Linked DNA regions of Homo sapiens. The protein of the gene in region 2 purifies or fractionates together with the protein of the main gene of each other region. This does not show direct contact. Each region holds a gene or a part of one and is shown on either strand. Other genes may lie near its edges.

Evidence for each region.
Region 1: the proteins of SAFB2 (region 2) and CIZ1 purify together in Homo sapiens (affinity purification with mass spectrometry; 2 studies listed by BioGRID and IntAct, with this or other methods). This does not show direct contact.

The regions. Positions count from the first base shown.
Region 1 is NC_000009.12:128,177,973-128,181,572, forward strand, and holds part of CIZ1 (cip1-interacting zinc finger protein), read right to left. Parts: intron 2,843-3,600; coding exon 2,749-2,842; intron 2,552-2,748; coding exon 2,443-2,551; intron 1,444-2,442; coding exon 737-1,443; intron 519-736; coding exon 397-518; intron 1-396. UniProt on the Homo sapiens protein: May regulate the subcellular localization of CIP/WAF1.
Region 2 is NC_000019.10:5,608,924-5,613,040, forward strand, and holds part of SAFB2 (scaffold attachment factor B2), read right to left. Parts: intron 3,645-4,117; coding exon 3,617-3,644; intron 2,708-3,616; coding exon 2,197-2,707; intron 1,766-2,196; coding exon 1,716-1,765; intron 1,173-1,715; coding exon 1,072-1,172; intron 1-1,071. UniProt on the Homo sapiens protein: Binds to scaffold/matrix attachment region (S/MAR) DNA. Can function as an estrogen receptor corepressor and can also inhibit cell proliferation.

The DNA.
Region 1 (3,600 bases), on a different chromosome or scaffold from region 2:
CCCACCCCTTGTATGACAGATGGGGAAACAGACTCAGGAGGGAAAGGGTTTGCCCACAGTTACGCAGAGCTGGGACCCAAATCCCACAGAGAGGCTTCCACTCTGTGCTCTCTCCACGAGAGCAACATTACCCATGCGAGGAGACTGGGGCTCTGGCTTGGGGATGGGCAGGCTGGAAGGGACGGATGTGAAGACAGCACAACAGCAAGAGGGTCCCATGCACACCACTATCAAGCCCAGCCTGGTCTGGCCACCCATCCTAGGCAGAGGGCTGTCATCCCATTTCACGGTGGGGGAAACACAAGGAGGCCCTGAGGTGGCCTGGGGCAGAAAGAGGCCATCCCACCCTGCTGGGCTCTGTGGCCCTCACACTGCCACATCAGGGCCTCTACCCACCCCTGGCATCTCTCTCGCTCTGTTTTCACATTCTCCCACATCTAGGCCACAGGCCGACTCATTCTGAATCTCTTCCATGCTGACTTGGGTGCCCACAGGCTCTGGCAAGGTCTTTTCCATGCCTGAAATGACAGATGTGCTGTATTTCCCAGAGTCCCCAGGCCCAAGAGCTGCCTTCTCCGTCCGCAGCCAGAACCTTGAGGCCCCCAGCATGGATGGCCCTGGACCTGGGTTCCAGGCCTAGCCCTCAGTCCCAGGCAGCACCCAGTCAGGGGAGGAATGAAGGGTCTGGGCAGAGCTGTCCCATCACCAGACCAGCTGGGAGCCAGTGCTCACTTACCTCCACCAGCTTCTACTGCATCAGGTGGCATCTCCAGCCCGCAGACATGAACCACAACTGGTGTTTGCTCTGGAGCCAGCAACGACACCTGCGGCTGGGTGTGAGGCTGCTCATGGGTCTGCTCTGGTGGCTGTACTGACACCTGCGCTGGAGGATGCTCCTGTGGCTGGACGCTTGGCTGTGCCTGTGTGTGGACCTGTGGATATGTCTGTGTCTGGACCTGCTTCTGCAGCTGCAGCTGCACCTGCCTTGGGGGCTGTGAATGTGCCTGGGGCTGCACCTGTGGCTGCACCTGCTTCAGCGGCTCTGCCTCCTGCTGCAGCTGCACCTGCCTTGGGCCCTGTGAATGTGCCTGTGGCTGTACCTGTGGCTGCACCTGCTTCTGTGGCTCTGCCTCCTGCTGCAGCTGTGGCTGCACCTGCTTCTGTTGCAGCACTAAGTGCTCTGGAGAGGTCTGTGTTTGCGCCTGCTTCTGCAGCTTTGGCTGCACCTGGGTGTCTGTGGATGGTATCCGCGGCTGAGTCTGTGACTGCACCTGGGCCTGGACCTGCAGGACCCGTGGCTGGAATCGTGGCAGCACTTGGGCTTCCAGGGCCTCAGGCAGCAGGTCTGGTGTCTGTGTCTGTTTCGGTACTGTCATCCGGGCCTGCGGCTGGGCCTTCACCTGTAACTGCCCTGGAGGTTCCTTCTCTGTGGGCTCTTCTGAGCTAGGAAGGATCAAAAAAAAATCCCAGTCATGTCTTCAAAGAGGCCCCAGGGGCTCCCAAGTAAGGCCAAAACTAGGCCGAGCGTGGTGGCTCGCATCTGTAAACCCAGCACTTTGGGAGGCTGAGGCAGGTGGATCATTTGAGGTCAGGAGTTCCAGATCAGCCTAACCAACATGGTGAAACCTGGGATTACAGGTGTGAGCCACCGCGCCCAGCCCAAGACTGTTTCTTTTTGTTTGTTTTTGGTTTTTTGTTGTTGTTTGTTTGTTTTTTTGAGATGGAGTTTCGCTCTTGTTGCCCAGGCTGGAGTGCAATGGCGCGATCTCGGCTCACCACAACCTCCGTCTCCCAGGTCCAAGCGATTCTCCTGCCTCAGCCTCCGGAGTAGCTGGGATTACAGACATGCGCCACCACACCCAGCTAATTTTGTACTTTTAGTAGAGACGGGGTTTCTCCATGTTGGTCAGGTTGGTCTCAAACTCCCAACCTCAGGTGATCCGCCCGCCTCAGCCTCCCAAAGTGCTGGGATTACAGGTGTGAGCCACCACATACAGCCCAAGACTTGGTTTCTAATGCTGGCTCTACCACTTACAGGCTGGGGATTTGGGCAAACTCCTTTGGCTGTCTAGGCCTCAGATTCACCTAAATAAACCGGGGAGGATCGTTCTCACCTCCCACAACTTGCTGACATGTATCCAATTGGCTTTGTAAATGGCCTGCCCACTACGGTCCCAGATGAACGTCTTCACCCCTCCCACGCAGCCATCCAGCTTGGCCCCCAGGTGGCTCAGTCTCAAGGAAGACACCAGAGTCTGGCTGGGAGCTTCCCCAGGTCAGGTGCGGAAATAAGTAAGGCCTTCCTCCAAATCAGAGGCCAAGGCCCTTTCCTTGCTCCAGCTCCACTGAATGGTGCACCCCCTCTGCCATTGCCACCCCTGCCTTTGCAGGAATGAGAGCACAGGGCACCCGGGCGCAGGTCAGGTTTTCAGCATCAGTTACCTCCTCAATCTCTTTGCTGGCAGCTCGGACGCCTCACAAGGCTCAGGCTCAGGTGCTGGAGTGCGTTTTTCCTTGGCGATGTCCTCTGGGCAGGGCGGTAAATCTTGGTCTGGAATGGAGGCATGAGCGAGGGAACTCATGTTGGGAAGAGCAAGCATCTCTGACCTCCAAGAGATGGGGCCTGGGCTCCCCGCCTTCCCACCAAGAACCCCTGCCTCCCACACCTGCCTCTATCACCTGCTGACCCGCCCACTGGCCCCACCCCATTCATGTCCCTCTGAAGGGCCAGCAGCCTCCCTCCCTCACCTTCTGGTGTGTCCATCCGGGGCTCTGCGGCTTCCTCAGACCCCTCTGGGGGGTCTGACTTGTCTTCCACAGGCATTGTCTGAGAAGAAGAATCCTGCTTCCTTTCAGAAACTATGTTGACATCCAATACCCACCCCTATCAATACCCCCTTGCCCAAGGGCAGCTGCCCCCCATCCTCCAGGGGATGACAGGGCCCTGAGGACCTCTGGTGGGCCTGGCCCCAGAGTTGCCGAGTGGATGATCTTAGTAAAAATGTCCCAACCATGGTGTCTAGGGGATTCTACCTAGTTGTCTGTTAAATAAACCCAGGTTTGGAGGACACAAAGCCTTCTCCTGGCCACAGTGCTACCTCCTGACCTGACTTCCCACCCAGTTTTACATGAAGTAGCCAGTGGGGTCCTTTTTTTTTTTGAGACAGAATTTCAGTCTTGTGGCCTAGGCTGGAGTGCAATAGCACAATCCCGGCTCACTGCAACCTCTGCCTCCTGGGTTCAAGCAATTCTCCTGCCTCAGCCTCCCAAATAGCTGGGATTACAGGCACACGCCACCACGCCTGGCTAATTTTTGTATTTTTAGTAGAGTTGGGGTTTCACTATGTTGGCCACGCTGGTATCTGTGGGTGGCAAGCCACCCAGGCACCGAGGCAAGAGACAGAGGACACGAGCTGTTCCAGTATAATAAAATATAAAACAAGAATTGTTATACCAGATATAGATCTTAGATATGATTATATATGAGTATCATTAATCATTAGTTGGTAGCAATTACTTTTTATTCCAATATTATGATAATCCTCACTCAATAATCATAGCCTAGGAAAAACCAGGCCATACAGAGATAGGAGCTGAGGG
Region 2 (4,117 bases):
TGTAATCCCAGCTACTCGAGAAGCTAAGGCACGAGAATCACTTGAACCTGGGAGGGAGGCGGAGGCTGCAGTGAGCCAAGATCACACCACTGCACTTCAGCCTGGGCAACAGAGCGAGACGCAGTCTCAAAAAAAAAAAAAAAAAAAAAAAGAACAACAAACAAACAAAAAAAGAAGACTCTTAATTAATTTCAAACAGTGGAATCATTTTAAATTGTCCTCACCTTCCTTTGGAAAGCTGCTGAATTGTACTATTTTTCTCCCACCCCCATGAGCAGCATCTTAGTGATTTATTTTTGAACCACGATCATGTTCTAGTTATGAGACTATATACTTAAAATGCTAAATGATATGAAAGTCAATTATTCACTTCATTCTTTTTTTTTTTTTTTTTTTTTATGACATAGTCTCGCTCTGTTACCCAGGCTGGAGTGCAGTGGCACAATCTTGGCTCACTGCAACCTCTGCCTCCTGGGTTCAAGTGATTCTCCCACCTCAGCTTCCCGAGTAGCTGCGACTACAGGCACAGAACACCACGGCTGGCTGATTTTTGTATTTTTAGCAGAGACAGGGTTTCGCCATGTTGGCCAGGCTGGTCTCCAACTCCTGACTTTAGGTGATACGCCCGCCTCGGCCTCCCAAATTATTCTTAAGGGAAAAATCTCATCATGTAAGCTTTAAGTTTTGCACAAGACAAAAGACCACCAGTCTCTTTGAGACCAGTTAGAAAGAACCCCAAGAACATTGAGAGAGAAGCTGTTTATACAGCTGTTCTGAGCACTGTTGTGATATGACCAACCACCTGCCCTGCTCCGCACCCTAGTTACTGTGAGTCAGGAAACAAGGTGCACTGCACAAGACTGGGCGAGCTTCGCTGCTGTCGTTCCATTTTTTAGTAAACACAACATCTTGCTATGTTGCCCAGGCTGGTCTTGAACTCCTGGGCTCAAGCAATCCTCCTGCCTCAGCCTCCCAAACTGCTGGGATTATAGACGTGAACCACCGTGCCCAGCAGAGCTTCCTTTTTAACTCTGAATCACAGTGGATGGTATGAGGCAAGGGAAGGCATACCTTCCCATACTTGCTGAAAAGGTTCTTGAGATCCGTAGCGCGTGTTGTGGAGGACAGCCCGCTGACCCACAGGTTCCGACCAGAACCGCTGCCGACCCGACCTGGCACGAGAGGGAGATTCTTAGGCATCACCCCAAGGCCTAACAGGAAGCACAACCATTCTTAAGACCGCAGCCCTCTTTAAAAACCCTAACGACGCCCAATCCCAACTGCTGACTTAAGAATTTAACGCACACACACATGCCAACACACAGAAGGCTGAAAATCTGGACAGCAAAAACTGAGTTTCCTTACTCAAGGAATAATCATGCCCATGTCAGTTATGAACTGAAATGTCTTTTGATGATCAGATCTCATCCAAGACGGCAGTCTCTAAAATCCTTGAAACAGTCTTCAATGAGCAGAATTATTCCTTTCTTGTAATGTGCTTTTCACCATCCCATAGATGACAACCACAAGAGAAACATAAAATGCAGGTGCTTGCGAACTTCTAAAACTAGTCTCTCAAGAAACCATTAGGTGGTTGATTCCGGTAACCCATAACAAAACAAATTACTGAATCCAAAGTGTGTATATCTCCAGGCCCCTCCTCCCAAAATAAGGGAACCATACCTGGCTCCCTACCACGTTAAATTAAATCATACCTTTTTCATCTTTAATGATTGGCTTTATATCTTTTTCTTCCTTAAAAGAGCTAGAGACAAAAGTTAATGTTACTCATACAGGAAAAAAACGAAAGAGAACAAAACTAAAAATATGATTATGTGCTAAAACTGAATACCTACCAGAAAATTAGTCTGAAATAAAATTTTAACAGACACCTCTGCAAGCTTATATTGGAAAATCTGACCCCAAAAATACAATGTCAGATTTGTAAAAGTCAATTCGATTTAGCTGAAGATAACAATTAACAATTTAAGAACACAACCATGGTAGGTTGAGAAAAAGAAAAGGAATTGAATCACCCATTAAAAACACACAAAGAGAAACGAAACATTCTTTAGAAGCAAAACTACAATTTCGTCAGTCTGGCTGGCCAATTGCAGAAAAAAACAGCTTATGTGTGTCATTACATGACCAATGAAAAGGAGATAGCGTCTGGTCTAAAACTGAGAAAAAACAAACCTCATTTTCTGATCAGCGCCCTCACTGGTTGAGGACTCTTTAGGAGCCGGAGGGACTTCATTACAAGCGTCAAAATCAAACTTCCTCCCGTCTTCTTTGCTATCTCTGGCTTCTGGGCTTGGGGCTTCCGTGGGTGCTTCTGCGAGCTCCTCGCTAGAGGCCTCCGCGAGCTCGGAGGCCGCACTACTCTGCTCAACTGCCGGCTCTAGCCCTACAGGCTCACAGTCCGTCCTCTCGCCATCGCCTGGCTGCTCCGCGGGCTCCCTTTTCACTACCGCTAACAGGCTGTCTGCCTTGCTCGACTGAGCGTGTGCTGTTGACTCGCTGGCCAAATCTAAATCACCCTCTTCCGGATGGGCGCTGTCAAATAGGTCCTCTTCCTCCGCAAGCTTTCTGTCTGGCCCCACGCTACTTGTGTCCTGTGCAAATGGCTGCTCCAGCTCGGAACTTTCTTCTTTTACTGGCTCAGATTTACAAGTTTCCCCCAAAATGTCGAGTATTTTCTCATTTTCTACGGATTTAACAGGAATAGAATGGCACAAGGTTTAATTACCAGGGAAATAAAGCAATCACAAATGTGGAACTGGCACGGCTGCCACACTAACACGAAGAGAACTGCTAGCTACACAGAGATTGGAAAACCCGCGGGTACACAAAGTTATACTGGTTACACTACCTGCGCCGCGACCGCCTCTAGGTAAGCCTCTACGCTACACGGAAGAGAAAAGGCCCCCACAGATTTAAACACCTACAACCACGCGGCTGGTTCTCAATAGTCTTCTTCGAGTTTTTGTTCAAGTCTGGGTCTTCTGACTGATTTTCCAATGTCCAAGGTGCTGAACCGAATGCAATCACCATTCAATGACAGCTCAACTTCCAAATTTCTTTGAATTTCTTTTAACAGAACAATCCAATATGAAAATCAGAATCTCTTCTGACGGTGGGAGATAAACGCAGTCCGGAAGGGGAATAATATGTTGAAAATTTTCACGGAGAAACTCTGTTTCCTCTTCTGGAATCCAGTCACTTCTCAGGTGGTAAGTGCCCTGACAACAGCTTTATCCTGCCTTAACTGCGTTAATCAAAATGACTGCAGCAAAATATCACAAGATCTGTTTCATGTGTAGAAACACATGGAGGAATCACGGGGACGGGGGAATTAAATGCCACTCTACGTGGTTAGACATGAAAAGAATCACTACTACATTGCACCAAATGTATTTGACCTCAAGAAGCCAGAATGGCTCTTCCACAGATCTGGTGATACGAATGGGTTTCCAATCTCTGATCCTTGTATGATCTGGATTGTCCACCATTAGAGCAATTTACAAGATCATAACACAGCTTAAAATATAGACAGCTTTAAAATAATAGTGTGAAAACTTTCAAACCATAACTGTCGTGTTTCTCTTATCAGTACCTGGCTCCAAAAGGGATTCTTCAATGTCCTATTTAAAAAAGAAAAAGCAAATCCACAAGTCACTTTAAACACGGGGCACATACATTTCACCAGTAAATATGGCTTTCAATCATCTGTGAATAAATGCCTGTTTCCACAAAACTTTCTTGTCTCCAAAAAATGTATTCCATCCTACAATAACCTGATGAAAACCAGCTCATTTTAACAGTTTCCCTGGTAACAGCAGGTCCCTAGTGATAACAGTCTGTCCCATTCTCCCGAGTTTGGGCCCTGCCCTGCCATGCCACCCACCCCATGACCAAGCTGACCTAGTGGCTGCTGCAGCTGGCAAACACCCCCTTTGTCAGAGAAGAGGTCACAGTGGATTTAAGAAAAAAATACTTCTCCCAACATAAACTGATTTGTAACTGAAACCTGTCATAACAAAATGATCTCTCTACTCTGCTGAAAACCTTTTCCGACATCTGTCTCACTTAGGACAATAGGTCCAATCCTTCTGGT